Regions from separate parts of the Homo sapiens genome. Here all the other regions are reported to be linked to region 1. The links are microRNA targets in miRTarBase. Many come from high-throughput screens and were not tested one by one. Region 1 holds a microRNA gene; each other region holds the end of a gene's coding sequence.

Evidence for each region. Region 1 holds the annotated microRNA hsa-miR-3121-3p (UAAAUAGAGUAGGCAAAGGACA, at 2,507-2,528, shown strand). A microRNA usually pairs through its seed, bases 2 to 8, with sites in the 3' UTR of a target mRNA and lowers its output. Matches are read on the target gene's strand: a 7mer-m8 pairs with bases 2 to 8, a 7mer-A1 pairs with bases 2 to 7 and ends in A, and an 8mer does both.
Region 2: miRTarBase lists ADM as a target of hsa-miR-3121-3p. Seed matches in the 3' UTR shown: 8mer at 1,169-1,176.
Region 3: miRTarBase lists CMIP as a target of hsa-miR-3121-3p. Seed matches in the 3' UTR shown: 7mer-A1 at 1,021-1,027.
Region 4: the mRNA of IFNAR1 is a reported target of hsa-miR-3121-3p. Seed matches in the 3' UTR shown: 7mer-A1 at 506-512 and 8mer at 3,628-3,635.
Region 5: the mRNA of WWTR1 is a reported target of hsa-miR-3121-3p. Seed matches in the 3' UTR shown: 7mer-m8 at 3,974-3,980, 7mer-A1 at 3,688-3,694, 7mer-A1 at 1,366-1,372 and 7mer-m8 at 738-744.
Region 6: the mRNA of PPP1R9A is a reported target of hsa-miR-3121-3p. Seed matches in the 3' UTR shown: 8mer at 5,064-5,071.

Annotation. Positions count from the first base shown.
Region 1 is chr1:180,435,777-180,440,850 of GRCh38, reverse strand. MIR3121 (microRNA 3121) reads left to right here and starts at 2,461; the gene lies at 2,461-2,537. The region is part of intron 3 of ACBD6 (acyl-CoA binding domain containing 6); the gene reads left to right. It also overlaps the pseudogene VDAC1P4.
Region 2 is chr11:10,306,170-10,311,243 of GRCh38, forward strand. It overlaps ADM (adrenomedullin), which reads left to right. Exons shown (of 4, transcript NM_001124.3): 4 at 163-1,228. The coding sequence ends at 472. It overlaps CAND1.11 (a long non-coding RNA gene), which reads left to right and starts at 2,144. Exons shown (of 4, transcript NR_103765.1): 1 at 2,144-2,504. RefSeq lists silencers at 513-807, 1,145-1,244 and an enhancer at 1,745-2,014.
Region 3 is chr16:81,709,322-81,714,395 of GRCh38, forward strand. CMIP (c-Maf inducing protein) reads left to right here. Exons shown (of 21, transcript NM_198390.3): 21 at 425-2,441. The coding sequence ends at 478. Among named protein-coding and RNA genes, the nearest start is that of PLCG2, 67 kb to the right of the region's middle. RefSeq lists enhancers at 2,218-2,900, 3,583-4,264, 4,265-4,945.
Region 4 is chr21:33,355,209-33,360,282 of GRCh38, forward strand. It overlaps IFNAR1 (interferon alpha and beta receptor subunit 1), which reads left to right. Exons shown (of 11, transcript NM_000629.3): 11 at 108-4,656. The coding sequence ends at 341. Among named protein-coding and RNA genes, the nearest start is that of IFNAR1, 33 kb to the left of the region's middle.
Region 5 is chr3:149,516,630-149,521,703 of GRCh38, forward strand. WWTR1 (WW domain containing transcription regulator 1) reads right to left here. Exons shown (of 7, transcript NM_015472.6): 7 at 606-4,360. The coding sequence ends at 4,176. Among named protein-coding and RNA genes, the nearest start is that of TM4SF4, 44 kb to the left of the region's middle.
Region 6 is chr7:95,289,727-95,294,800 of GRCh38, forward strand. PPP1R9A (protein phosphatase 1 regulatory subunit 9A) reads left to right here. Exons shown (of 20, transcript NM_001166160.2): 20 at 365-5,074. The coding sequence ends at 577. Among named protein-coding and RNA genes, the nearest start is that of PON1, 32 kb to the right of the region's middle.

The DNA.
Region 1 (5,074 bases):
CTTGAAAACATTAAACCAAGTGAGAGGCCAGACATGAAAGATTACATAGTGTATGATTCAATTTATATGAAATATCCAGAATGGTTAAATCCATAGAGACAGAAAGCAGATTGGTGTTGCCAAGGTTTTGGGGGAGAGGGGAATGGGGAGTGACTGCTTAGTGGGTTCAAGGCTAAAGGTTTGGGGGAGAGGGGAATGGGGAGTGACTGCTTGGTGGGTTCAAGGCTAAAGGTTTGGGGGAGAGGGGAATGGGGAGTGACTGCTTAGTGGGTTCAAGGCTTTTTGGGGGGAATAACAAATATGTTGTGGAACTAGATGCAGTTGGTTGCACAATATTGTGAATGTATTAAATGTCATTCAATTGTACATGTTAAACTGGTTAATTTTATGTGAATCTCATGTCAATACAAAAAGAAGTAAACGTGAAATAAAGACTTTTCAAGGCTGGATCTGGTGGCTCATGCCTGTAATCCCAATACTTTGGGAGGCTGAGATGGGCAGATCACTTGAGGTCAGGAGTTCGAGACCAGGCTGAACAACACATTGCAACCCCATCTCTACTAAAAATGCAAAAATTAGTCGGGTGTCATGGTGGGCATCTGTAATCCCAGCTACTCTGGAGACTGAAGCAGGAGAATCACTTGAACCCAGGAGGCAGAGGTTGTAGTGAGCTGAGATTGCACCACTGCACTCCAGCCTGGGCCACAGAGTGAGACTTCATCTAAAAAATAAAAATAAATAAATAAAAACTTTTTCCAAATAAACAAAAGCAGGTAATTCATTGCCAACTGAACTGAACTATAGTAAATTTTAAAGGAACTTCACATGAAAGGAAAATTATATAAGATGGAAATTTGGACCTCCATAAAGGAATGAAGAGTCCTGGAAGTGCTAAATATATGGGTAAATTTAAAGACTTTTTTTAAATTTTAAAATCTCTTTAAAAGATCACTGAACTTCCAGTTTCAGCCTCAACATGTGAAGAACCTGCAAGTTATCACTCCTCTCCTTAACAATAACAGTAATCTGACCAAACTGAAAATCAAAGACTGTTCTAGATCCATCAGAGATTGAGGTACCAGTTCAAACTGCCATCCCCAAAACTGGAGAGACAGGTGAATACAGAGAATCATAACCAAGATAACAGAAGATGCTTGGGCCATAAACTGGTAGAAACACTTCAATGGTAATGGATGAATTGCTTGAGGCTGAGTGTGGACTAGGGAGTCAAAAACTCCTCCCCAGTATTTTTTTTTTTTTTGAGACGGAGTCTCGCTGTGTCGCCCAGGCTGGAGTGCAGTAGCGCAATCTTGGCTCACTGCAAGTTCTGCCTCCTGAGTTCCACCATTCTCCTGCCTCAGCCTCCTGAGTAACTGGGACTACAGGCGCCCACCACCATGCCCAGCTAATTTTGTTGTTGTTTTATTTTTAGTAGAGACGGGGTTTCACCATGTTAGCCAGGATGGTCTCGATCTCCTGACCTTGTGATCCACCCGCCTCGGCCTCCCCCAGTGCTGGGATTACAGGCGTGAGCCCCCACACCCGGCCCCTCCCCAGTCTTAGTAGGGCCTTCCACTTTGGTAGGTTTTATCTCCCAGAATCCCATTTACGGTAAAGAGTCAAGAAAAATCTTGTGTTTTGGGCCAGGGGAAGGAGCATATAGTTAACACTACTGAGTTAAATACCAAAAATGGTTAAAATGGTAAATTTTATGTTTACAATAATTTAAAATTTTTAAAAAGAAATGAGCTATTAGACCATGAAAAGACATGGAGGAACCTTAAATGCATAATGCTAAGTGAAAGAAGCCAATCTGAAAAGGCTGCATACTGTATGAGTCTAATCATTTGACATTCTGGAAAGAGTAAAACAAAGCAGTGAAAAGATCACTAGTTGCCGTGGGTTCAGAGTATGGAGGAGAGTGGGGAGGGAGGGAAGGGTGAATAGGTAGAGTACGGGATTTTTAGGGCAGTGAAACTATTCTGAATGGTACCGCAGTGGTGGGTACATGTCATTATATGTTTGTCAAACCCATAGAATGTTCAATACAAGAGTGAACCCTAATGTAAACTATGGACTTTCATTAATAATAGTGTATTAATATAGGCTCATCAGCTGTAACAAATGTGCCACTCAATGCAAGATGTTAGTAATGGGGGCAGTGGGTGGGAGAGTTGTATACATGTGAGAGGTATGAGATAACCCTATTTTTTGTTCATTTTTCTGTAAACCTAAACTTGCTTTAAAAAGAAGTCTAAATAAAAAAGAAAAAAGAACTATACTTATTTTTTTTGAACTACCACGTAACTCTTAATTAGTAGTCTTTATTTCACAGCAAATAATTACCAAGTGGACCATAGCTATCTCTTCCCAATTGTCTATTTCACTTTAAGAGAGTCAATGAATGGCGCCAATAGAAGCTATGATTGTCTCATGAACAACCTTGTCTTATTGCTTCTTAAATGGTTATGTCCTTTGCCTATTCTATTTAAGACACCCTGTACCTTAAATAGAGTAGGCAAAGGACAGAAACATTTTAAGTTCTCTAACACAGCAGTCCCCACCCTTTTTGGCACCAGGGACTGGTTTAGTGGAAGACCATTTTTCTGCAGCAGGGATTAGGGGGCCAGTGTTGGAGGGGGATGGTTTCAGGATTAAACCATTTGACTTCAGATCATCAGGCATTAGATTCTCATAAGGAGTGCGTAACCTAGACCCCTCACATGTGCAGTTCACAATAGTCTTCACAGTCCTGTGAGACTCTAATGCTATTGCTGATCTCACAGGAGGTGGAGCTCAGGTGGTAATGCTTGCTCAACCGCCACTCATCTCCTGCTGTGCGGCCAGGTTCCTGACAGGCCATGTATTGCTACTGGCCTGCAGCCCAGGGGTTGGGGACCCCTACTCTAACATTCTGTGCATACCCTCATCATAGGGCCTTTGCACTGGCTTTTTCCTATGGCTGGAACAATCTACTCCAGATACCTGCAAGACTCACTTCTTCACTTCCTTTGTCTTTATTCAAAGGGCCTTCTCTAGAAGGCTTTCCCTAACCATCTTATTCCAAATTATAACCTTGTTCCTGGACCTGTTTTTTTTCTTCATAATACTCCTTAGGTTTTAATATTGGAAAACTTATTCATTTATTGTCTGTCTCTGTCAGACCTAACCTGATTTTTGTGTGACGATTTTGTATCCTGCAACTTTGCTGAATAACAGATTGGGTGGAATCTTTAGGATTTTTTTACATATAAAATCTTGTTGTCTGTGAACAGATAACTTTACCTCTTCCTTTCCAATTTGGATGCCATTTTAGGAAAAACTTTCAAACTGTGTTTTTCCTCTGCTCTCATACCACTACAACAACAGAAGACTTCTGTGACCAAATACGTGGGGATTTCTCCCCAACATTATGTGAGCAGTTCTGCAGCAGACACCAACTGGGTATCCTCCTAATCAGTTCTGACACTAGGTGCCTAGAGATAGTGTCAGATTCCACAGGTTGAGGACTCAGTCCCCAGGACTGCCTCCCACCCCTTGACCAGTCACAAGCCCCGGTCTCCAGAATTTCTTACCAACTGGCTTCAAGTTGTGGTTCCCATGACCCCCTCTTTGGGTTCAACTGAGTTCTGGAGTGGCTTACAGAACTCAGGGAAACACATTTGCCAGTTTATTATAAAGGATGTTACAAAGGATACAGATGAAGATGTCGAGGGAAAAAAGCCAAACTGCAAAGTATTTGAAGAGATTTATTCTGCACCAAATGTGAAGACCATGACCCATGACACAGCCTCAGAAGGTCTTGAGAACATGTACCCAAGCTGATGGGGTTATAGCTTGATTTTATATCCTTTAAGGAGATATGATAGCATTAACATTGGCCTGGATACCATCTTGAATAGAAGTGATGAGAATAGATATCCTTGCCTTGTTCCTGATCTTAGAAGGAAAGCTTTCAGTTTTTCACCACTGAGTATGTTGTTAACTGTGGCCTTTTCATATATGGCCTTTATTATTTTGAGGTAGTTTTGTTTTTGTTTTTGTTTTTTGAGGTTTCAATATTTTATTCAGGTTTTTTTAAAGTGATGTTAATTACAGCATTTGAAGGGGAGGATCTAATTCCACACAAAATGGAAGACTCTAAAATGTACCCATTAAACTGCTAAAAAACAAATTGAGTGGTGAGAATACAACAGAAGTCCAATTTAGATTCTGAGTGTTGTCACCATGTGATTACAATCATACAGACACTTCTAAGCTTATAGGTGGAGCTCCTGGAAGCTATTTCATACTCTGGTGCAAGGGCAAAAAAACACAACGCAAGAAGGAATAAGTCCTGAATTATTGGCTTTATCACGTCCACCCTCTCCACCCCAAAATGGCACAAAAGAATCGTGACCACACCACTCTGCAGACGTTTTGGTGTAAAAGAGGTGACGATGAACTGGGGTGGGAACAGGTCATGAAGATATGTCTAAAAAAAATCCCATTCAGGTGAGTTTGTACACACCATCAAGTAGTGAGCTTCTCATCAATTAGGGTTAGATAAACAAGGTTCAATTCTCAGGAAATCACAATTTCTTTCATTTACTCAATATGAATTTACAAAGTGCCTACATATTATCAGCTTCCACTTGCAGCCATTTCTAGATAAAAAAGAAACCTGATATCTCAAAGGGGCCACCAAGTTACCCCCAAGTCTACCACTGAAAGGACCTTTTTTGGAAATGGTTTTCTTCTGTACCTCTGAAAGGGTAACATCTTAAAGCTGAATCATCTTTAACCTGGAGGTCTAACATATTTAGCAATACTTGCATTCCAGACGTACAACATTAAACGATACAGTAAATTCTGAAGGTAGCTATGCTGCAAAATAGTTTAAAATTAAACAATTGTACAGTATTCATTTATGCTTGAAATTCCAGGCCTAAACCAAGCTTGTGGCCACCACCATTGACGTTCTTGCCATCCAGAAGAGCTGACAGTGTCAATTTGATACCTGGTTTTAGGGTCTGAGTGTATCCTAAACCCATCAGGCTGGAGTTATTCACTTTAGCCGAGAAGCAGCTGTCAG
Region 2 (5,074 bases), not on the chromosome of region 1:
CCCCTGGCCCGGGGGATCGTCGGGGCTGGACCGCAGCTCAGATGGCGCGAGCAGTTTCCAGCTCCCTCTGGCTCTAGAATGGCTCCCGTTCCCGGTGTTGGGGCCAAAGCTCTGCTTGATGGGGTCTCAAGTTGCCTTTCTTCCCCCTCCCCCCGCCCGCAGCAGTCCGGATGCCGCCCGCATCCGAGTCAAGCGCTACCGCCAGAGCATGAACAACTTCCAGGGCCTCCGGAGCTTTGGCTGCCGCTTCGGGACGTGCACGGTGCAGAAGCTGGCACACCAGATCTACCAGTTCACAGATAAGGACAAGGACAACGTCGCCCCCAGGAGCAAGATCAGCCCCCAGGGCTACGGCCGCCGGCGCCGGCGCTCCCTGCCCGAGGCCGGCCCGGGTCGGACTCTGGTGTCTTCTAAGCCACAAGCACACGGGGCTCCAGCCCCCCCGAGTGGAAGTGCTCCCCACTTTCTTTAGGATTTAGGCGCCCATGGTACAAGGAATAGTCGCGCAAGCATCCCGCTGGTGCCTCCCGGGACGAAGGACTTCCCGAGCGGTGTGGGGACCGGGCTCTGACAGCCCTGCGGAGACCCTGAGTCCGGGAGGCACCGTCCGGCGGCGAGCTCTGGCTTTGCAAGGGCCCCTCCTTCTGGGGGCTTCGCTTCCTTAGCCTTGCTCAGGTGCAAGTGCCCCAGGGGGCGGGGTGCAGAAGAATCCGAGTGTTTGCCAGGCTTAAGGAGAGGAGAAACTGAGAAATGAATGCTGAGACCCCCGGAGCAGGGGTCTGAGCCACAGCCGTGCTCGCCCACAAACTGATTTCTCACGGCGTGTCACCCCACCAGGGCGCAAGCCTCACTATTACTTGAACTTTCCAAAACCTAAAGAGGAAAAGTGCAATGCGTGTTGTACATACAGAGGTAACTATCAATATTTAAGTTTGTTGCTGTCAAGATTTTTTTTGTAACTTCAAATATAGAGATATTTTTGTACGTTATATATTGTATTAAGGGCATTTTAAAAGCAATTATATTGTCCTCCCCTATTTTAAGACGTGAATGTCTCAGCGAGGTGTAAAGTTGTTCGCCGCGTGGAATGTGAGTGTGTTTGTGTGCATGAAAGAGAAAGACTGATTACCTCCTGTGTGGAAGAAGGAAACACCGAGTCTCTGTATAATCTATTTACATAAAATGGGTGATATGCGAACAGCAAACCAATAAACTGTCTCAATGCTGATTCATTCTCTCGGCTCGGCTCTCACGTCTAGGAAGGGAGGGTGCCCTGGTCCCGGCCCGCCCAGGAGCCTTGGGGTCCCGCCGCCGGGCTTGGGAAGGTGGGACAGCGGCGCGTGCAGGTGCTGGCCCTACTCTGAGCGGGCTGAGCTGTCACGAGCTCTGTTCTCTGTGTGGGGCGCGCAGAACACGTGTCCTGGGTGCGAATCAGGGCTTCGCGGAGACGCCCGAGGTCACCGCCTGGCGTGGCGGCCGGCGGGGGGTGGGTAGGGGGAGCCCTAGTGGGTTGGCGAGCCTGGACTCTCGGGTTGCGCAACGGAGTCCTAGATTTATAGGGTTGCTCACAGAACCCGGCGCGAAAGCGAGCTTCGAAGAGTTGGGGTGGTCTCTGAGGCCTTCTAAGAGAGGCGTTCCCCCTGCCTGCCGCGGTTGTTAAAGTTCCAAGCCGCCCTAGCAATGCGTGGGGACACCTCCGGAAAACCCAGTAACCCCTAGTAACCCCGGGTCTGCCCGGGCCTGAGCGCCCGCGGGCCGCTGGCTCATGGGCGAGGCTGTAGCGCCCCCTGCAGGCAGCTGAGACAGGCCCAGCGCCGCCAAGCAGTACGTGCGGTTTAATAAGTTCTCCTACGTGGGAGTCAGCACACAGCCTTAATGAAAGAGGAAAGAAAGAAAAAAAAAAAGAGAGAAAGAAACAGTTTGCAGATGCCAACCAGGGCCGTCCTCCTACACCCCCCAGACCTGCACCGCGGCTCCCTGTTCTGGGACAGTGACTCAGCGCCCACACGCTGCGCTGCGTGCAGCTGCCGGCTGGAGGCGGGCAGGACGGACGTGCCGGCGGAACCGTGAGCCTCCGACGGCCTGAGACCTTCATTGTTCCGCCTCCCCTAGCCGCTCACCTCTTCCTTCCTCCTTCCCAAGCCTTTTTTCATTTTTTTCTTCACTTTTCTCCAGCCTTCCTCTCTCTCTCTCCTTCCTTCCTCCTTGCTTTCTTTATATGCCTTATCTTCTGAGAAGGTTGACCCCAGTTCCGGCGATAGACGGACACTAAGCCCCCCTTGAGTGACTAGAAAGGCAGGGGACATAGGAACAGTTAGGACATAAGGGAAGAGTAAAGAGAGGGACCCCTGATTTTGATTTCAGGGTGCCCTGTTTGTCTCATCCAATATCCTGAAGACCCAAGATGGAGACCAGCTACTTGTCCCTTCCAAAAAGCTTCCCTGGCCTTAATGTCAGTGCTTGTAGGTGATCTCAGAAACCTCCCTGGTGAAGAAAACCTGAAGGTGAGTTTGGAGAATGGAAATGTTTCCAGGGTAGCCTACGGCCTTCTGGGGCTTTTGCACATTACAGGGTCCCCTCCGAGGGGCTAGGATGTTTAGTTTCTTGCAGAAGAGGACTGCATACCCACTGAGAGAGAGGGGCCCTACTCTGGGGTCCAGAGATACCTCATTCCAAAGCAGTTTCAATTTAGAAGAAAGTAAACTCGAGTACATAGAATTTCCTTAAGACCATACAAAACCTCAGTTTGGGCACCTGGCTGTTGACAATGCCAATCTCATATAGTTTATTGTCCTGTTTGATCTTAATAATTGTGTGAGGTGTGCCAGAATTGAGGAGGTTAGAAATGCAGCTACAGACCATTCTTGTCCTCAAGGGCCTTTCAGAAAAAGATTCACTTTGTGGGAACTCTGTGCCAGGCACTGAGAAGGTACCAGGCATGTATGAATGAAAGAGTGACTCAAGATTCCTGTCATGGAATTTCTGTGCCAGTGAGTGGGTTCTGGGTGGTCTGAAGGGGCTACAGAAACTGCAGAGAGCAGCAAACACTTAAGCCTCGCAGACAGTGGCGCAAGATTACTCCTTTCCTTGAGCCAAGGTTGTCCTGTAGCCACAAAGCACTCCAGCCAAACCTCACCTTGGCACAGCGTCAGCCAGCAAACAAAGCTGCCAAAGGCAGGTTGGGCACAAGCTTCGGGCGGTTGTGAGCAGGGAACAGGCGTCTAGCCTTGTGCTGAGGAAGTCTTATGACTTGAGGGAATCCAAGGCAAGTGAAGGAGATGGTTCAGCCCTAAGACAAAAGAGGCAGCTGCTCAGCTGGAGTCCTTCCCGCTGAGAATCCTGTGACTGGAGACATGTGCGAGGAGACAGAGACCCTCCTAAGACCAGTTTGGTATGAGTTCAGGATTAACCAAAGGTCACCATCAAACCCCGGGCTCTTCTCTTTGAGGTGCTGAAGCTTATCAGGATAGGGACTATTGATGCCAAGAACACATTGTTTATCAACAGTGATGAGTCATTTGTGAGCTGATTCGACCTGTCCACAGCTGAGGAGTAGTCACAGCTTTTATCTTTAGCTACTGTTGCTTGCTGTGGGAATGATACCATACATTTGTAATCAAACACGGGGTATCAGGCAATTTCTTGAAAAGCCAACACCTTGGCTGAACAGCCAAGGGTGAAGGGGAGTGATGGGGAGGAATGGAAACAGATTCCTTTTTTAGCACTTGCTTGGTGTCAGATATTCTCTTTGCCACTTTATACACCTTATCTCATTTAATTCTTACAACAGCCTTGTGAAGTAGGTGTTATCTGTTTATTGATAAGGAAACAACCTCAGAGACATAAAGTAACTCAGCCAAGGTTACACAGTGAATAATAAGCGGTGGAGCCTGGATTTGTACCCAAATGCTACAGGCTATTTTGATCCTCTAAAGGCATATGGAGTAAAGTGGGATAATTTTAACGTTTAGATTCTCCAGCCAAATGTCCCCAAATGTCCTCTAAAACAGGGATAGCTTGTATAGGTGATTCACACCTGTGGTTCTGAAAGATTTACATGAGGGCTGGTAGAATAGGGAAGGAGAGCTGCTTCAAGCAGTAAGCTCAATGAGTGCAAAATAAATAAATGAACTGAGTTTTAAATTCTTGGTCTTGGTTTGAAGAAGGGATTATAAATCAACCTTTTTCCTCTCCTGAGCTAAGCCACTGACCTCTTTGGTTTGAATTGCCAAATATAGTTAAAATATACACTGAAGCTTCAAGAGCTGGTTTCGGGGGGGAAGGCCTTCTGAGCTATTCCTGGCCAAATACAGCCCCACACTGTAGGTCTTAAGTCGCCTGGAAGAACACCTGTGTCTACAAAACTGCAAATAGAGTTTCCACCCTTGAGGTGGGATCTTTTGTCTTGGCAACTGCTGCTCAAGGCACCTTTTTAGAGGATGTTCTGAACTGACTCAGAGAGAGAGAGAGAGAGAGAGACAGAGAGAGAGAGAGAGAGAGAGAGAGAGAGAGCGCTATGACATAAGGCCCCTCCTTTCCCCAGCTGAGAAGGAGAAGGCCTTGTTATCCTGAGTCTCACAGAGGTTTCTGCCAAAGCCAGGCTGGAGGCTTGGTCTTCATGTGCATGGGAAGAAGGGTGAGGCTAGATAGCTATCTGGTGGTCCCACTGGTCTTGTTCCAGAGCTATTTTGGAACATTCTGGAAAAACAATAAAATGACTGTGGCCACACAGGCAGCTGAATTTAGTAGGTTTTTGTACATTTATCCAACATTAGGAAAGTAGTTTTGAGTATTAAGATACAATTTTAGAGCATAAAAAATGCATTTTACTTATTTACAATATTTATTCAGTGTAGAAGAAAAAGATTCACCTGCAATACTACTTTCAGAGATAACCACTATTAATATTTTAGACATTTTAATCTTTTATTTATTTATTTATTTTTTTAGAGACAGGGTTTTGCTCAGTTGCCCAGGCTGGAGTGCAGTGGTTTGATCAAGCTCACTGCCTCAGACTCCCAGGCCCAAGCAATCCTCCTGCCTCAGCCTCCTGAGTAGGGGTGACTATAGGCAT
Region 3 (5,074 bases), not on the chromosome of region 1:
CTACATTTGGTATTTAACCCCTAGCACCATCCTTTGAGCCAGGGACTAGAGTCAGATGGGCCCACAGAGGAAGAAACTGAGGCCCCTAGAGGCTGGGTTATCTGCCCACGGTCACGCAGCAGCAAGTGGCAGGGCCTGGATTCAAACCCCAGTGCTTCCACCTGCGAAGACAGAGACCAAAGGCCATCTGAGGCGGGGGCATGGGAACCCCGCTGCCTGGTTTCTCCGGGGCCAGGGCACATCCCACCTGCTCTGTTCTCTGCCTAAGGCCACCCACCCCTCCAAGAGCCCAGGTAGCCCACAGCACCAAGGTGGGGAGAGGGTGGCAGAGACCCCCAGCCGGCAATGCGGGTGGAGCCAGGCACTGGCAGCTTCTGCAAGGGAATGGCCTACACGTGACAAGGACTCTTATTGCCACCCCCAGGCCAAGCTTCCCAATTTGAAGGAAGTGGACGTCCGCTACACCGAAGCCTGGTGAAGCTCCCAGCTCAAGGCAGGAAGACGTTTGCAACCGCGACAAAATAACTCTTGACTAACAGCCGCAGAGCAGCCGGTCCTGGGGTCCCACCCTGGTGCCCTGGCTGTGAGATAGATGGGGAGTCTTTCTGGGGGCGGAGGGGGGAGGGGGTGGGGAGGGGGCCCACAAGCACGCCCAGCCCCCGCCGAATTCTTTTAGCTTCGTAATTGGAACCTTTGACCTGATCTAAAGTGGACTTTGTAGCAACAAGAGGAGCATCAGCGGGTCGGGGAGGGGTTTGGGGGTGGGCTGGGGGGTGGGGGACCCTTTGTGGATTTTCTTTGCCTTTGTGTTTGATGCCGTCGTGTGGGAAAAGTCAACTCCGATGCCACCATTGCGGGCCGGACGAAGGATGCTTTCTTCCTAGAGGCTCCGAGCTGAGCTGCGAACTCGCCCCCCGCCCTTGGGACAAGAAGACCCAGTCACATCACTGCACCCGTCCTGTGTCCTCACCATTGCTATGCAAAGTGATTCTTGTTGTACATAAGATTTAAATAATGCACCTATTTAAGACATGTTGACAAATTGCGGGTCTGGGACCCGCCTCTTATTTATGAAGTCTTTGACCGTCCCCCCCGCCCGACCCCACCGCCCTCCCGCCCCCACCTGGCGTGTAGTACTGTATAAACCAGTCAGCTGTCGGGTTAGTGGTAGTATTATTGTTATTTTTTTAAAGGAAACAAACAGACAACAAAAAGAAGAAAAAAAAAAAGAACCTCCTTGGAAAAATTAATTGCTTTTTCGTAATGGATTCTCTATGCTAATGCTCTCTCGTCTGTCTGTCTGTCTGCCCACTCCCCCACCCACCACTGTGCGTTTCTGATTTCCAAATGTCTCCAACTCCCTCACGAGGTGGGGCTCAGGCTGGAGGAGGAGGGATTAAGATCCCCTTGCTCCACTAAGGCCCAAGCTCTTTCTCTCGGCACCTTTTAGACTTGAATGGGAGGCTGCTAACCCGCCCTCTCCAGTCCACCCCGGTAAAAGAGCTGTTCCCCACCCCCAGGGAGCTCCTGTCCCTGTCAGCCTTTGCTGTCCCCTGTCCCCAACGGAGACTCTGTCACCCCTGGGCTCCCCCTGCCATCGTGTGCTTCACGTGGCCCCATGCATGCCCGCCTCTCTGCATGGTCTCTTGGGAAAAGAGAGATGTGTCGCCTCCGCCAGTCCGACTGCCCTCCCCACCCCACCCCCGCCACCCCCCACATGTGACCACTGCAACGAAGACACTCCTTCTGTCCCCACCTGCTCCGAAGACAAACCAACCTCCGTTTCTTTTATAAACAGTCGGCTTTTTCTTAATAAGCCCTCACTGTACAGAACAGCCCGTTGATGGTTTATTTGGGGTCCCCCTCTCCCCCCAGCCCTTTTTTCTGTTGGTTTAGCACAAATACTTCCCTCCTCCGGCACCTCCAAACCTACCCCACAGTCAGTGTACTTGTTTTATATATATTTAATCTTATTCAATGGAAACCATGCTTTTGTCGTTTTATACTTTGCTAGGTAGACTTTATTACCCCCCCACTATGCCCTCATTTTTTTAAAAAAGGAAAAAAAAAAGAAACTGGGTTCCAGTCTTAATTCATTTTCCGTGCCAGGTTTTATTTCGTGTGTGTGTGAGTGTGTTCTGTTTTGTGTTTTGTTTTTTGTTGTTGTTTTTAGTTGTTTGGTTTTCTTTTCTTTCCCCCCTCCGGTCCCATACTTCACAGCACTCTGGTGCGGGAAGAAGCAGAAGCAAAAAAAATAAAAATAAAAAAATAAATAAAAATAAAAAAAATAAAAAAGGAAAAAAAAAAAAGAAGAAACAAGACATGCCACCTTTCCCCTCGCACTGTTGCTTTTCCTGATGGTTAATACTACTGTCACGTAGCTGTGTACAAAGAGATGTGAAATACTTTCAGGCAAAAATAAACTGTAAGTGACTCATCAATGTCTGGCCTTTGTGTGGTTTCTCGGCGCCCAGCGGGAGAAGGTCCAAGGAGGGGGCGAAGCCCAGGCGGGAAATCTGAGGCTCAAGACAGTGCCGGGATGCCCTCGCCACCTTCTGTGCGCACTTCCTGAGGACCAGGGCTCAGCATCCTGGCTGCTGTTGGCCACTGGGGCCGGAGCTGTCTTCGTTGCAGGGGGGCTGTTGTGTTCATTGCCAGACATTGAACAGCATCCTTGGCTTCTACCCAGCAGTAGCACCCCTTCCCCATTTATGACAACCAGAGTGTCTCCAGATGTTGCCACGTGTCCCGTGGGGGGATAGTTCGCTCCCCAGCTGAGACTCCGTGTCATAGACTGAGGTCAGTGCTGCTGTTCAGCAGGGCCTTACGAAAGCTGTAGCCCAGAGCTACTCCAAGGAATGTGCCTTCCATCCACCTAGGGGGTCTTGTGAAAACGCAGATACTGACGCCATAGCGCTAGGTGGTGCCTGGGAATCTGCATTCCTGACGAGTTTCCAGGTGATGCTGTGCTGCTGGTCAATGCCAGGTTCCTAGACCCACACTTCAGCTGCCTCCTCCCCCTAGATGTCTCCAAGAGGCAATCTTGACAAGTCCAAAAATAAATGCTTTATCTTGGCCAGGCACGGTGGCTCACTCCTGTAATCCCAATACTTTGGGAGGCCGAGGCGGGTGGATCACAAGGTCAAGAGATCGAGACCATCCTGGCCAACATGGTGAAACCCTGTCTCTACTAAAAATACAAAAATTAGCTGGGCGTGGTGGCGTGTGCCTGTAGTCCCAGCTATTCGGGAGGCTGAGGCAGGAGAATCGCTTAAACCCGGGAGGCAGAGGTTGCAGCAAGCCGAGATTGCGCCTCTGCACTCTAGCCTGGCGACAGAGCAGGACTCCGTCTCAAAAAAAAAAAAGTAAAGAAAAAATGCTTTATCTTCACCCCTCTTCCTAAACCAGTCACCCTTCAGGGTCCCCCAGCTCAGCAGGGGTATCCTTGTCCTCAGCCCAGGCATGTCCTGCCTCCACATGCTGACAGAAATCCAGGATGTCCACGAGCCAGTCCTCTGCCTCTCCACCATGGGCCCGGCCCGAAACCAGCTCTCCAGAGACTCTGTGTCTGGAGTTGCCCCCTGCCAGCCCCCACCGTCCCCACACCATCCAGCTCCCTCTGCTACCTGCCCCACCTCTCTCTATGCCCTGGTGGCCTCCTTCCAGAGGCCTCTGCCAGGTCTTTTTAAGACAGGTGAGAAGGCTGGGTGCGGTGGCTCATGCCTGTAACCCCAGCACTTTGGGAGCCCGAGGCGGGTACATCACCTGAGGTCAGGAGTTCGAGACCAGCCTGGCCAATGTAGTAAAACCCTATCTCTACTAAAAATACAAAAATTAGCCGGGTATAGTGGCCCACACCTGTAATCCCAGCTACTGAGGAGGCTGAGACATGAGAATCACTTGAACCTGGGAGGCGGAGGTTGCAGTGACCCGAGATCTCGCCATTACACTCCAGCTTGGGTGACAGAGTGAGACTTCATCTCAAAAAAAAAAAAAAAAAAATAGTGTCAGTCACTCAGCGGCGCCTTCCTCAGGTCACACGGAGAGCAGGCGCTATGGAAAAAGGACAGGAGGGCTCTTGACTGCGGGGGTGAGAGGCCTCACCAAGGACATCAAATGAACAGTCCAAAGAGCCCTTGGCTGCCTGAGCTCCCATCCTCAGGCCAGAGGACCAGCTAGTGGTATAGACGTGTGCATGCGCGAGCCAGACGCTTCAGCCTGCTCCATGTTGCCTTCTCCACCGGCGTAGGGCCTGGCTCACCACAGGTGTTCATTGCTCCAAGGGTTGGGGGAAGATGTAGCCGGGGGCCACTCTCAGCCTTCCTCCCTGCTCTGCCCCGCAGCAGCTGGGCTCCTCTGCCCACTGGGTGAAGCTGGAGAATGCAGGCTCCCCGCTGGAAGAAGTAGGGGGTGTCTTCCCTGGCATCCCAGCCGCTGTGCCCGTTGCTGGCAGGAGTTGCCTCCCTCCGTGGGCTGCTCACCAGGATTCCAGCTTTCGAGGTAACACAGCTCCCTGTCTCGCCCCTTCAGCCTTAGCCTGGGAACTGCCCCTCGCTGGTTCCTGGGTGCCTCAGCGTCCCTAACCCTGCCTGCACCTCTGCGATGCTCACACCTGGCCTGTGCCTCCTCCCAGCTGCACTGAGTTACACCACGTACTCCCCTCGCCCTTCAACCCAGGGGTGGTGATAGCTCCCCTGGTTACTGGTTACTGGTTCCTGGGTTCCCGGGTGCCTCTGCATCCCTTGCTAATTACCTAGCCTGGAGCCCCGCCCACCCTTCATAGCTAGCGCTTCTTTCCTTCTCTCCAGAATTCTCTTCTCTCTGAGGGGTCTCTGCGAGGACCTACCTCAATGACCATCCCCCACCTCCAAGTAAAACCAGCAACTGTTGGTGCCAGCCCCAAATGGGCCCAGTGAGAGTCCAACAGAGATCTAACCCCGTGCTGGGGACAGCGGTATTAATTCAGAATTTTTTTTTTTTTTTTTTTTTTTGAGACGGAGTCTCGCTCTGTCGCCCAGGCTGGAGGGCAGTGGCGCGATCTCGGCTCACTGCAAGCTCCACCTCCCGGGTTCAC
Region 4 (5,074 bases), not on the chromosome of region 1:
AGGTTTTCTCAGTAATGGATGTAAGAAACTAAAGCTATTACAACTAGAAAAGGAATTTTTATTATTTTAAATAATTGATTTCTACTCTTTCCCTTTTTTTAAATTAGTATTTCTCTGAACAGCCATTGAAGAATCTTCTGCTTTCAACTTCTGAGGAACAAATCGAAAAATGTTTCATAATTGAAAATATAAGCACAATTGCTACAGTAGAAGAAACTAATCAAACTGATGAAGATCATAAAAAATACAGTTCCCAAACTAGCCAAGATTCAGGAAATTATTCTAATGAAGATGAAAGCGAAAGTAAAACAAGTGAAGAACTACAGCAGGACTTTGTATGACCAGAAATGAACTGTGTCAAGTATAAGGTTTTTCAGCAGGAGTTACACTGGGAGCCTGAGGTCCTCACCTTCCTCTCAGTAACTACAGAGAGGACGTTTCCCTGTTTAGGGAAAGAAAAAACATCTTCAGATCATAGGTCCTAAAAATACGGGCAAGCTCTTAACTATTTAAAAATGAAATTACAGGCCCGGGCACGGTGGCTCACACCTGTAATCCCAGCACTTTGGGAGGCTGAGGCAGGCAGATCATGAGGTCAAGAGATCGAGACCAGCCTGGCCAACGTGGTGAAACCCCATCTCTACTAAAAATACAAAAATTAGCCGGGTGTGGTGGCGCGCGCCTGTTGTCTTAGCTACTCAGGAGGCTGAGGCAGGAGAATCGCTTGAAAACAGGAGGTGGAGGTTGCAGTGAGCCGAGATCACGCCACTGCACTCCAGCCTGGTGACAGCGTGAGACTCTTTAAAAAAAGAAATTAAAAGAGTTGAGACAAACGTTTCCTACATTCTTTTCCATGTGTAAAATCATGAAAAAGCCTGTCACCGGACTTGCATTGGATGAGATGAGTCAGACCAAAACAGTGGCCACCCGTCTTCCTCCTGTGAGCCTAAGTGCAGCCGTGCTAGCTGCGCACCGTGGCTAAGGATGACGTCTGTGTTCCTGTCCATCACTGATGCTGCTGGCTACTGCATGTGCCACACCTGTCTGTTCGCCATTCCTAACATTCTGTTTCATTCTTCCTCGGGAGATATTTCAAACATTTGGTCTTTTCTTTTAACACTGAGGGTAGGCCCTTAGGAAATTTATTTAGGAAAGTCTGAACACGTTATCACTTGGTTTTCTGGAAAGTAGCTTACCCTAGAAAACAGCTGCAAATGCCAGAAAGATGATCCCTAAAAATGTTGAGGGACTTCTGTTCATTCATCCCGAGAACATTGGCTTCCACATCACAGTATCTACCCTTACATGGTTTAGGATTAAAGCCAGGCAATCTTTTACTATGCATTAAGACCTCTGATTCAAAACTTATTAGAACAGTAGCTTCTGCTGGAATTTGCAATCACTGAAGTCATAGAAAATAGGTAACTATCTAATTAGAGAAATAATTGTTGTATTTTAAGATCTGAGAGTGTGTACAAGTTTTAGTATACATGCCATGCCAGAAGATAGTGTATGCAAGAAGTCTTGGGACCAGAAAATGGCAATGATAGGAGACTGACATAGAAGAAGAATGCTTCCCTAGGAAAAAGGTCGCTGGCTTTGGTGCAAGAGGAAGAAGAATGTTCCACTGGAAGCCTGAGCACCTAATCAGCTCTCAGTGATCAACCCACTCTTGTTATGGGTGGTCTCTGTCACTTTGAATGCCAGGCTGGCTTCTCGTCTAGCAGTATTCAGATACCCCTTCTGCTCAGCCTGCTTGGCGTTAAAATACAAATCATTGAACTGAGGGGGAAAAATGTAACTAGGAAGAAAAACCCAATTTAAGAAATTACATAATGCTTTCCAAAGGCACCTACAACTTAGTTTTAAATTACTTGCTACTGGGGATTACCCATGGATATCCTTAATAGGCAGGAAGTCTGGGAATTCTGGTGGCCTCTAGGGCAGTGTTCTCACAGCACCGTTCCGACAGGGACCAGTGAAAGAAAAGAGACAAAGTTAGAACGTGCTGGGGAGCGGCCATTTCTAAGGCCAGTCTGGTTTAAGTAGTCATTTCTGCTGAAAAAACAGATGATCCTGGTGGAAGAAAAGGTTGAAGGCAGCTGCCCTCGGGAGGGCTGTGATGCTCGGCACATCCTGCCTGGCACATACACGTGTCTGCAGGCCACACCGTGCATGTCCCCAGACCTGCCGCCTGGCTTCTGGAGTGCTTCAAGCAGAGCATGGTGGGTCATTGAGGAGACCCAGGAATCTCATCTGAGAACCCACTCTCTGCCGGAGAACCCCATGGTGACACATTTTCATCTTTCTGACCAGAGGCTGTTTTTTTTTTTTTTTGAGACAGTCTCATTCTGTTGCCCAGGCTGGAGTGCAGTGGCTTGATCTCGGCTCACTGCAACCTCGCCTCCCGGGTTCAAGCAATTCTCTGCCGCAGCCTCCAGAGTAGCTGGGATAACAGGTGCCCACCACCACACCCCACTAATTTTTGTATTTGTATTTTTAGTAGAGATGGGGTTTCACCATGTTGGTCAGGCTGGTCTTGGACTCCTGACCTCATGCTCCACCCGCTTCGGCCTCCCAAAGTTCTGGGATTACAGGTGTGAGCCACCGTGCACGGCCGGCCTGACCTTTGGAAAAGCCTTGTCACTTTGGACGTTTGCGTCTTTGAAGAGGCGATGGGAGCATATCATGACTGCCTGCCACCATTGCTTTTCAGACTACCACAACTCAATCATGCTGTCCAGGACTTCTGGCCCTGTGTTCACCACTGGGAAAACGTACTTCAGACTGGATAGCCTAAAAAGGAGCAATGCCCTTGTAGGATGTGGAGAAGGGAAAATACGGACATTAACATTAAAAGACACCAGTGAAATTGTTAGGTCTCTAGGAAGTTGGAGCACAAGGCTTCACGCTTTAAGACCATCTGTGGTTTTCAGTGAACAAGCGCTGAGCACCAGCAGCAGAAAACAACAACAAAAAAACACCTCGTTTTTACCTTGTCTTCTAGACATGAAAAGGCAGTTGCATTCCACTCTGCATTATGTTCTACATGTTGCTTTATCAGTATATGCTTAGCTGTAAGTGACAAGTATTTTTTCTGAACAGAAGTTTACTTAGAAATACCATGCACTTGGGGGTACCAATTAACCGCCTGAAAATTAGCATATTGATAGTTCTTAGAGAGACCAGATATAATCTAAGAATTTATATGAAAGATTTGTATCATTAGAGCCAGAAATAATTTTATATTAATATATAATACAGATTAACATTATATATAATATGTACCTGTGTCACTTCTGACATGAGCCTGTAAACATATATTCATATATGTACCTGCACATGTACCCACCTGATGTAGGTCTTATTCCTTTAGTATGGACTTAAAGTACTTATTCATATACCTTGTAACTAAAAATTAGAACAGCTCCCTAGAATTGTGAACTTTTAAGAGTCTGACTAGAAATTTGCAACTTATAAAAAAGTTACTTTTAAAAATATAAGTTAGGGCTAGGCACAGTGGCTCATGCCTATAATCTCAGCACTTTTGGGAGGCCAAGACAGGAGGATCACTTCAGGCCAGGAGTTCAAGATCAACCAACCTGGGTAACATGGCCAGACCCCATCTCTATTTATATATATATATATAAAACTTAGAGTTTTTATCTTCCCCTAAAAGAGGCCGTGATATTTGCAGCAGCCTCAAATTGCTCTTAAGGGGTTTAGGTGTGCAGAAGCTTTCCTTTCCCTACCCAGTAACCATGTGACTACTAACGTGGTATATTGATTTATTTTGTTTGCTGTCTGTCTCCCCTGCCCCACTGCTGGAACAGAGGCTCCAAGAAAACAGGGACCTTATTATTCATTACTGCATCCCCAGTAATGAAAGTACTTAGAAAATAATTATTGAATGAATGAAATCTAAACTGTGAACCTGAGGGTGTTTGTGGCAGTGTTTGTTTTACTGAATTGTAGAAGGACATAACCGTGTTTTCAGTGTTTCTATGGAACAAACTTGTACATTTTATTTCACTTGTGTTTTGTCTTAAACCCTACTGCTGGAAACAATTTTATGTAATAAGCAATGGGCCCAAAAGTCTAGGAGTTTTTTTGTACTTAGTGAATTTGTATGCAACAGAGATGCTGCAGCTGATGCCTTTAAAAGGTATTCATCATGGAAGAGCTGAGGCCTGTGCTTGGTGTTCCAGAGCCCAGGGTTGAGCATCCTGAAGGAGCCACTGCAGCCGTCACTGTCCCCAGAGCCTGTGGAGATAGAGCCTGTTTGCTGCTTTTTCTTCCCGCTCTTAAGACATGGCTGGAGCTCAGTCTTCATTGAATGAAGTTTGCTGTGGTATTGCATAGCCTTGCTTTCTTGAACTAAACTGTTTGCCCTTCACAAGTAGTTCTTCTTTCAGGATTAGTTCGTTCCAAGGAGGCTCTTCAGTCTCACAGATAAGTAGATCTCTCCTGCTGTCTGGACACATTTCACTCGGAAATTGAATACAATTTGTATTCAGGCTGGGAACCTGAACACACACTTGTGTTTTTAAGCTTCCCTTTTTTACAGTGGACAAGGACACAAATAATAAATAAATCATCCCTAATGCCCAAGAAATGCCCTGGTACTTAGTAATAACAAAATACCAGTAACTTCCAGTTGTTTCTCACTACCTTTTTTCTTGAGTAGGATGATAATAGAATTACAACTCTTGAGGGCAACATAAATATAGGTGGATATTTGTGGTATGATATTGATGGAAAAATAGCAATCTTTTTCTTTACCTGAGGGGAACAAAGGCAAGAGGAGAATTCGATAGTTCTCATAACAAAGGATTTCTGAGTTTTCCTCCCCTTTCTGTGATCTGTCTCCACTTGGAACTCATGTTCTAGCAAAGGACATTTTGTGGGTGAAGAAGTGATTAATGATTAGGATGAAGAAAATGTTGGCAGTTCCAGCCTGGCCAACATGGTGAAACCCCGTCTCTACTAAAAATACAAAAATTAGCCAAGCATGGTGGCATGTGCCTGTAATCCCAGCTACTGGGGAGGCTGAGGCAGGAGAATCGATTGAACC
Region 5 (5,074 bases), not on the chromosome of region 1:
ATTAGTCACCAGCCAGTTTCATCTTCTATAAACTTTCCATTCACATTATTGATCCATATTTCTATTGGGCTGTTTGTTTTTTCTATTGGTTTATAAGAGTTTGTTGTATATTCTACACCACCATACCTGGCTAATGTTTATATATTTTTGTAGAGACAAGGTCTCACAATGTTACCCAGGCTGGTCTCAAACTGCTGGGCTCAAGCAATGCTCCCGCCTCAGCCTCCCAAATTGCCAGGATTACAGGCATAAGCCATCGTGCCCAGCAAGAATCCTGTATTTTTGATGGTCTTGTCAAATCTGTGAGGGTGTTGGGAGGACAATGATGTGATATATATATATTTAAAGGTATATGTTTTTATTTTTAAAGGTGTATATATACACCTTTAAAAACCTCAGTGGACATTGTAAATAAAGTGGAAACTAGAATTCTGTGAACATTTAGAATGTTGAAGGCCAGGCACGTGAGCCAAGAAATTGTTTGCCTGCAGATTTTTCTTTCTTTCATTGTCTGCCAGGAGGGTTACATAAGCCTGTCTTCAGTACCACCCAAATCCCCTAGTAAAAGGAACACAGACAAATAATGAAAAGTCAAAAGCTCCAAGTGGAAGTTCAATTGTCTTTATTTTTCTTATACAGATTCAGAGAAGTAAAAACCAGTACCAAACTCCAGGTAAAATGGTTTGATCTGATCGATTTGGCTGCATACTTTCGGTACGTATAACATTCTAAACTTAAAATAGAAATTTTTATATTACAAAACGTAGAAGTAAAATTTTAAAAAGTTAAAGTACTAGCACATATATGTGTTAGGAAAATGGTCTCTGTCAATTGCCCATTTTCCCAATTAAATTAACCTACGATTTCCTTTTTTTAACAGCTTATTTTTTTCATAAAAGTTGTACTTTGAGAAGTTACTTTCTAATTACGTCATGAGAACACAACTTGTAATTAGCAACACTTCTGTCAGTCTAGATCACTTCTTCTGCAGAGAGCTTTTCAACCAAGTTGGCATCAACCAGCACAATAAAGTTTTCACTGTTTTACCTGTTTCCTGTATATGGTGTAATCAGTGAAAGAAATGGCATTTCACATCCTAAATAATACGGTGAAACACTGTCTAAAAATTACTTAGATTTAACAGAATTGCAATTAGGTTTTGACAATGTATTTACTTCAAGACAATGTATTTTATCAGGAAAAAATATCTTGAAAGAAAGATCTCTGAAATTATTTTTCATTTGATACGCCTTTTCTGTGACAAAATTTTGGGGTGAAATGATGATGTTTACTGATTGATTTAGTACTAAAAAGACTAGTACTAAGAAGACTAAAGACAGTTATCTTATAATAAGAAATATAGTATAAATAGCACCTTATCAAGAATTCTGCAGGGGTTTTAACACTTACAATAATAGGAAATAGCCATTAAAAAGTTGCTCTAACTTTAGATTTCTAACTTTAGTGTTCTTTAACAAAGGCCATATTTTGTGGCCTTAAAAACAAAAAATTATATCTGGCTTTATCTATTAGTAAACACAAAGGGTCCATATTTTATTCTGAAAAAATATTTATTATATTCATTCATAAATGTTCTAACTAATTTAACTAAAAAAATCTTCTAGTATTTTCTGATGCCACAAGCTTACTAGAAAATTACTTCTAAAAATTGGTAATATAAATCATCAATGATTTACCTACTTTAAAAAAGAGGGGTATCTGTTTCTCTTACATTTAATAACCTGAAAATGAGTCTATAAAAATATTTTTTAAAAATACAGTAACACTGCTGAGTTTTGTTAGGTCCCTTGTTTTTTTAATTTTTTATTTATTTATTTATTTTTAGCAAGAATGTACAATTCTTTTTGCAATTTTTTGCTAACAAAAGACAAAAAGAAATAGTGCTCCCTTCAATTTAGTAGCAATAAAATCATCTATCTTCATCTCTCTCAGAGGGCTTAGGGAGAGTGAAAGGAATTAGAGGAACATAAACCATGGGTCCTTCAGGTAAAATAAGTCATTTCATAGTGATGGAGGCAACAGCAGGCTACGCTCTTGTCTGCCTGTACGCTCAGCATCAGCATGCCCTGCCCCTCCTCCTCCCACATAAGGTGCACCAAAGCCTTCTTTTCTTCTACAACAGAGTCTTCCGGTATAAAGGTGGCAACAGAAAATTGTTGCTTTGTCCTTTTGGGGCATCTCTTGCATCTCCTGCTTGTTTTGCTTTTGGGGTACTATAACTTGTCTCTTTCCATTTCACAACTAGTATCCTTTCCACGATATTCCATAACTTTGCTACTTCATCTCTGACCTTTTCACTTGCCTTCTTTCCAACATGATCCAATGTACTCTGTACATGTATATTCCGGTAGATCAAAAGGAATCTTATTTAAGATCCCCAACAAATAAGTCCCCCATGGAAATTGAAAGTATCCTCTCAGAGACTCAAATTATTAAAGTCTTTCAAAAAAGATTAAATTCATAGATTATAAATAATATTAGTTCAAAATATTAAACAGTTGAGGACTTCATTGGCAATGCAGGCAGACTGCATGCCAGTTGAACATGATGCTCTCTCAGTCCTTAAAAGCTAATTAAAAATGGTTTTGGTTACATAAGAGGTATTGAATACATATTTCATGCCTTTTTATACCAACTGTAGCAAACAGGATTAGGATAATATACTTAGGAATCAATTTTACTGAATTCAGAAACATTTATCTCCACCATACACCCTCAAAGGGCATTTTTTTTTACATGTCAGTCAGAGATCTGCTTCATCCTTCAGTTTCATAGATAGAATTATTTTAAACACTTGAAATCTAGGAAGCAAACCTGACAAGGCTTCAGAATTTAAAAAGCAACAGCTCACTGTGTGTGGTGTGCTATCAGGTTGAAATCTATGTTGTCCTGATGTTTTCAGAGTTATTTCAAAAGACAAAAATACAGTTGCCACTGATTTATCAAAAACATTTGGCTGCCTTTTGTCATCAGCTACAAAATTACAGTGCTTTATAAAATAAACATCAAGGCCGGGTGCGGTGGCTCACGCCAGTAATCCCAGCACTTTGGGAGGCCGAGATGGGTGGATCACCTGAGATCAGGAGTTTGAGAACAGCCTGACCATTATGGTGAAACCCCGTCTCTACTCAAAATACAAAAAATTAGCCGGACGTGGTGGCAGGTGCCTGTAATCCCAGCTACTCGGGAGGCTAAGGCAGGAGAATCGCTTGAACCCAGAAGGCAGAGGTTGCAGTGAGCCGAGATTGTGCCATTGCATTCCAGCCTGGACAACAAGAGCAAAACTCGATCTCAAAAACAAACAAACAACATCAAGAAAAAAAAAAACCATCAGATTCTAAGCTGCAATTTTTTAAATCCCCAGTTGTAATATTTCAAAAACTTTTGTTTGAATAAAATGCTCATAATTAGTACCAAACTGGTCTCTTTCACAAGATCTGTAGTGTAAGACCTGTGACTAATGCTGCTGCTGCTACTTTCCCGCTGGAGGGACTAAGTTGTCTAGATGCTCTGCAGTAAAATAACGAAAGATAAGCTACAATAGGACTGTGTGCCTTTATAAATACAGACTAATAAGAGCCATCAGAGCCAGCATGGATTCAAAATTACATTGTATTCCATACAGTAGAATTTTACTATCCATACAATGATTTTTAAAGCTCAAGTTAAATAGTTTTTAAAGCATTTGGTACTACTGTCATCAATACAGTTTTTGAAACTGTAAATCAGGTCGAATTTTGTGCACATTTCCTGGACCAAGATGCCCTCAGAAGTAACTGCCTGTGGTCAGCTTTTTATGGTTTAAAATCAATTGGTGTATAAATTTCAATTAACACCCATAAAGCTTAGCCATGGGGCAGCAGAGAAGAAAGAGAAAAGTATTCTGCATAATCAATCCTGCAGACACAATTCTGTATAATCTGTCACAAGAACGCAGGCTTGCAGAAAATGAAAATAGAATATTTATTTATGTTTAACTTAAGTTACTCTCAATCAAAACCAGGCAATGATTAAACTGGCAACATAAAAAGGAGGGAGCACGAGTCATGGAGGCGGGAAGTGGTGCACCTGCAGACTTGCTCTGCTCCATCACTTTTTCCAAGAGGCCCAGGAAATGTAAGGTCATGGCTACATCCAAGTTACAATGGTAGTGATTACAGCCAGGTTAGAAAGGGCTCACTTTTGTTCAGAGCAGACTCTACATCATTGAAGAGGGGGATCAGGTCTTCAGATTCCAAAGTTCCTAAGTCAACGTTTGTTCCTGGAAGACAGTCAAGGAAATCAGGGAAACGGGTCTGTTGGGGATTGATGTTCATGGGTGTTTGTCCTGCGTTTTCTCCTATAACAAAATGAAAAGAAACCATTTTAATTCCTTCTTTTAGGCTCTTGAAGGAGGAACAGTTCAAGTATTTACATAACCCTCACCTTCATGTCTTCAACTACCACATTATTGACCCTTACTCATAAGAGGTACAGAGATGTGGAAGAAATCGAAAATTATTTCTGGATAGGTGTGGTCCAGAATGGAAAAGGCCAAGGAGATAAGAAAGGAGCATGTGAAAGGCACTGTGGATCTGATCTATGATCTGTGCCTTCCCATGACAAAGGTGTGAAGAACTGTTTTACAAAAGAGTAGAGAGGCCTTGTCTGTAATAAACAGCTTATTACAGAACTATAATCTACAGGTTTCATTGTAAGCTTAGGTTTACCCATACCATCCTTCTTTATGTTCAAAGAGAATGGTGTGAAGCTTCTTTTAACCAGGCTATTAAAAAGTTGTCTTCATTGATGACTTTAGGCATCATTTATAAAGGCAGTTCTGCAGACGTTTTCCCTCTTTCTGTAATACCTACACCCTACAACTATCTGCCTTTCTCACAAGCATATGAGCACAGTGCATATGAGCATGTTAAGGCTTTAAGTCTTAGAGTAAAGAAATCTTTTGTTTTCTTTAAGACACTATTTCCTAAACCCATTTAATCACCTAAACCTATTTTGGCAGTATGTGTATTCAAATAAAACTGAAGTTCTACAGAACACAGGTGAGAAAATG
Region 6 (5,074 bases), not on the chromosome of region 1:
TCACTCCTATGCTTTGAAAATATTGATGAGTTTAGCAATACCTTTACCCGTAAATGCCTACAGCCCAAAGGTTGGAGAAGTAGAATTGTGCCCTTTTTCCATTCATTCACCCATTAATTACTCATTTGGAAAGCATTTAATTAATGAGCTTTAGGGTATACTTTGCAAGGGACTTCAAAGAACAAAAGAAAAAATAAAGGGTAGCCCCCAGTGTGTTGGTTTTTAGCAAATGTAACTAGTTCTTCCTCTGTTCTTACCTCTTCAATGTTTGAATTAGTTTACGAACTTGGATATATGGTATGTTAACACCATCAGAGGGCTCATTGGTTTTCAAATTCAGTTTGTGTGTGTGTTTCTTTCTTAGGCTCTTGGAATGACAGCATCCCAGGACCGAGCAGTGGTCAAAAAGAAACTCAAGGAAATGAAGATGTCTCTAGAGAAGGCTCGGAAGGCCCAAGAGAAAATGGAAAAACAAAGAGAAAAGCTAAGGAGAAAGGAGCAAGAGCAAATGCAGAGGAAGTCCAAAAAGACAGAAAAGATGACGTCAACTACAGCCGAGGGTGCTGGTGAGCAGTAACACATACCCTCTTACAGATGATGGAGATGCTCCAAGAGAAGTCCCCACCTCTTCCTGCCCTGCTCTCCTCCAGAGGATGAAAAAGAAACTAAATGATAAGGGTAATGCGGCTCTAGGCCGGCTGAGGAACTGTGTGTTGAATAACTGCATTTTCTGCAATAGAATGCACTCTTAATTTTAACTACTAAAATAATCCCAAGCCACCTTTGGTTCATTAACAAACCAGAGATTTCATTTAAGTAGCTGTGTTTTGCTCTTCTCTAACTTACCAACATCTTGTGTTGTGTTGGGTGTGTTTTGTCACTTGGAGAACTAGTGTGACCCCACCCAAGAGCATGACACACCCTGGTGTTGTTAATGGAGCGCCGTGAATTTTCAGTGTGGGATCCTGAAATGGCAATTGCACATGTCTGCATGGCAGAGAGCACCCTGCCATGAGATCTGAGACCAGTACTTAACTTCTAGGACTGCAACACCTACTCCAATGTGTGGGAAAGATTTGCTCTTAATTCTCAGTCTGGACAGTGAGACCACCCCGCTGTGGAAACATGGGTGCTCTGCTCTGTAGTTACCTACTAAGGGAAAAGGCAAGCAAGTCATTCTGCTTGCTAGGCATCAAAAAGAAAGAAAATAAATTATAGCTATTTGTTAACCACTGAAAAAAGCAAAAGCCTTAAGAATGTGGATGTGGGTATTACCTTGGGGTTCTGAGGGTAATATTTATCCTCTAGATACGGCTGAACAAGAAAGAAAAAAATCAGACATTAATGCAGCCATGGGATATTGGGATCTGTTGACCTTGCTACTGCTGTGTGTTCAGCATTTCAGCAACACTGGCAAACACAACACAGTTCCTCTTCCCCCTACCTAACCCAAGAAATTGAACAGGAAATTGATTTTTAAGGAAACCACCATTTTCAGGTTTCCTCTCCTGGGGAACATTCTGGCTGGTCTTCAGCCTGCCTATGTCACAATCAGGAACTCATCACATATTTTCTACTCAAGATTTCCCAGGTGGGCTCAGTTAGTATTTTAACAAATGTACTTTTAAGAAAAATAGAAATACCAGTTAGAGGAAACTGTCAGTTAACATTTTAGAGAGATTTTGAATGGTTTTTCCGAACCATTCCTTTCCATACTTCAAAGATTCTCAATTTTACAGAAAAAGTTTGTTTAAGGCAGTGCATAGGTATACTTTAGTAGTGGAGGAACTTATACTAATTTTAAGCCAGCATTAAGGATTTCCATGTTTCACCAAACTAAGTCAAGTGCAGGAGACTGGGGCAGAAGAAGGAGAAAATAAACTCGTTTTGAGAAATTTCATGTGATGAGGGTTTTTTGTTTTTTATGCTCATGTATCTGGTTCTCTTTGCTGCGTTGACTCTAAAAATGAGGTTATCCACTTTCCAAAGGACAAGTTTCAGAATAAGACTTGAGGCCACATGAATTCTTGGACAGTATTTTACTTCTTTTACTTTATGGGAATCTCTGCTCTGTTCCCAGCATCTCGTATCTTCCACTAGAAGTATTCCATATTTAGAGCCTCGGCAAGGCTTTTGAGTGTAACAGATTAAGGGAACTCCCTTGTAGCCCCATCTTGTATTTTAATAACAGTGTGATTTTTTTTTATCTGAAAATCTGAATTCAGAAATTATCTAAACTGGACATTTTTAATTCTGTTTTACCCCCAAGGCCTGTTTTCTTTTCATTGCCAGAGTATTGTCGGTTATGCGTCAGCTCTTTTGTCATTAGGTACAGACCCTTCATTCAATCCTCAGAAACGTTGACATGAAGTAACATTGTGTTTTACAGTTATCAAAGTCACCATTATGTTTTTCTGTCTGTCTTCATTAGGGGTATGATAATGAAACTGCCGTATTGGATACTCTATTAATGTCTTGAGATGTCTGGTGCTTTGTTATTTTTTCACATCATGAGAAATAAGAAGCCACTATTAATGAGTGATACAATTTGGCAAAACTTTTCAAATACTAAAACACTAAATTAGTAAAAATCTGGTAATATTAGTGCTTGCTATTGTAAATTTTTGCCATTTTTGCTTATCTTTGGGAAAAAAGTGACCTGGATCACACTGGAAGTTTCACTGTATTCAAGAGTAGAAATAGAAGGATGATTATCTTAAGTTATGTTTACACTTTGGTAATATTTGAAAATGGATGTATATACTGGAAATGTCTGTAAGTGTCTTGTTTTTGCACCTAATTTATGATCTATTATATTGCATTTTCTTAAATATCTTAGAAGTATTTTTCTTTATAACTTTGTATATTGAATGTTTAGATAAATGTCCAACTGACAATGTTATAAATCAAATTCTTATTCCTAAAATCATTTAGTATTATAAGTATTTTGATTTTTTAAGTTAAATTATAGTAATTTTAGGCCGAAGTGAGTTATTTTAACATTACCACTTAAAACGGATGAAATTGTAAAAGTCATTTGGTTTGATTGCCCCACAAAGCATAAGATGTAAACTGATTAAGGGTATGAAAGCAAAGTGAAAGACCTCAGATCTTGTGCACATTTTGTTTTCCTATTATTTCTTTTATTGACTGTAGTGCATGATACCTAATCAAGGCTCCAATGTCTTGCACAATTCCTACTTTAATGCTAGTGGTTTTCAGTGTCCTTACAATTTAACACAGAATTGTTATTTCATCAACCTTAAAAACTGCAGTTTTTATTATCAGAAAATGAACAAAAAGGGAATATCTGGTTGCTATGAACTGATTCCCTAAAGGAGAGCTCAGTATGATTCTAACAATAGCCAAAAGTGTTTTGGGGTATAGGTTATGCTTTGTTGGGAGGGAATGTGTGGTGAGGAGGCCAAGCTGCAGACAGAAAGCATTGTATGAGCTGTATCTGGGTCAGGGTTTCCCATTAAAGGATGTTAGTTTTATAACAGATTACTTTGTTTAAGACCATCTCCCTTCAAGTAACTCACAGTTTATGTAATACTAATCTCATTCTTTTTTTACCTGAATCAGGAATTTTCTGCAGAATGTTAAGTTAGGGAAGAAACCTCATTTCATCCATTCTAACACTCCTGATGAAGTCCCCCTTTAGTTTCATGACAATAAAGCTGTTCTGTGGCTATCATCCTTTAGCTGGGATTGACAATTGATTTCACACCCTCAACATCACAAGCTTTTTTTAACCCACAGCAGTTCATGATTGCAGTATGATAGGTACTAAAGCCAAACTCAGCTTTCAACTGGCACAAAATGGGACTGTCACCTTTTGCTCCATTGTTGTTGGAAACAAAGTGGCAAGAGGGAAAATGAGGAACCAGATTTACCTTTGCCACTATCTGTGACCCTGTAATCATCACTAGCCTGAAATCTTAAAATATCCCAGTCCCAAGCTACAAAAATGGTCACAGGTGGTTTGATCTAGCACCTCGGCCGTTAGAGTTTGTGCTGAAGACAAATTTGTCTGGGTTCATTGTGCACCAGAATTAGCATGTGCTTGAAAATTGCATTTTATAAAAGGGAAATGAAAATTTGCATTTATATAGATACTCTGATTCATGTTTAAGTGTTAAAGGTTATGCAGACTAAACTTCAAGAGGAGATCCAGTGTTTAACAATAGTGTTCTAGAGGATTCTAAAGGAAGCTGCCCCAGCAGCCCTGAGAGAACCATCTATACTTTGGATATGTTGTAGCCCCATCATTACACTGAGATATTTCCATTTGAGTAACTAAAGGTACTCCTGACAGAGCTGGAGATGAGGGGCATTTTGGTGGGCAGTGGTCACTAGGGTTCACGTCACCTACTTAATGCAAAGACCTTAGTGGTCTCAGAATGAAAAGGTAAAATGGAAGAGAAAAGCACAGTCCTTTCCTGTCTTTTCAAATTTACTTTTTATTAAGGATGTACCTGTGCACTATTCTAAAGCTAAGCATTTAAGGATAAAGTCCAGAAATAAAATGTCCATATTTTCTTTTCTTTTCTTTTTTTTTTTTTTTTTCTGTCATCTGTCACCCAGACTGGACTGCAGTGGTGCCATCATGTCTTACTGCAGCCTCAAACTCCTGGGCTCAAGTGGTCCTCCTGCTTCAGCTTCCCAAGTAGCTGGGACTACAGGCATGTGCCACCACCCCCAGCCAAAACATCCATATTTTCTATTAGAATGGTTTACATTATGATGGGGGATGGGGAGCTGGGGGAGGGCTGTACATTCCCAAAAGAAAGTAGTGTTATAGGAAATCCAAATGCGCTTCAGTGATTCACTCCTGAAAAGCAGCCTGGGTATGTTGGCAGATTTTGTTTGCATTTGTCTTGCGTATTTAAAGTCTCAGGAAATCTAGTCTTGGTCCAAAACACTGGAGAAAAAAATAACACCAGACAAAACACATTTGAGTAACTTGAAGTAGCAGCATAGAATAGGCCCAACTAAGAAGTTGGAGGGGCAAAGAGAAAGCCGACAGAATCAGCTTCTCCTGGAAAGTGAAAGCATCAAGTTCTATTTATGG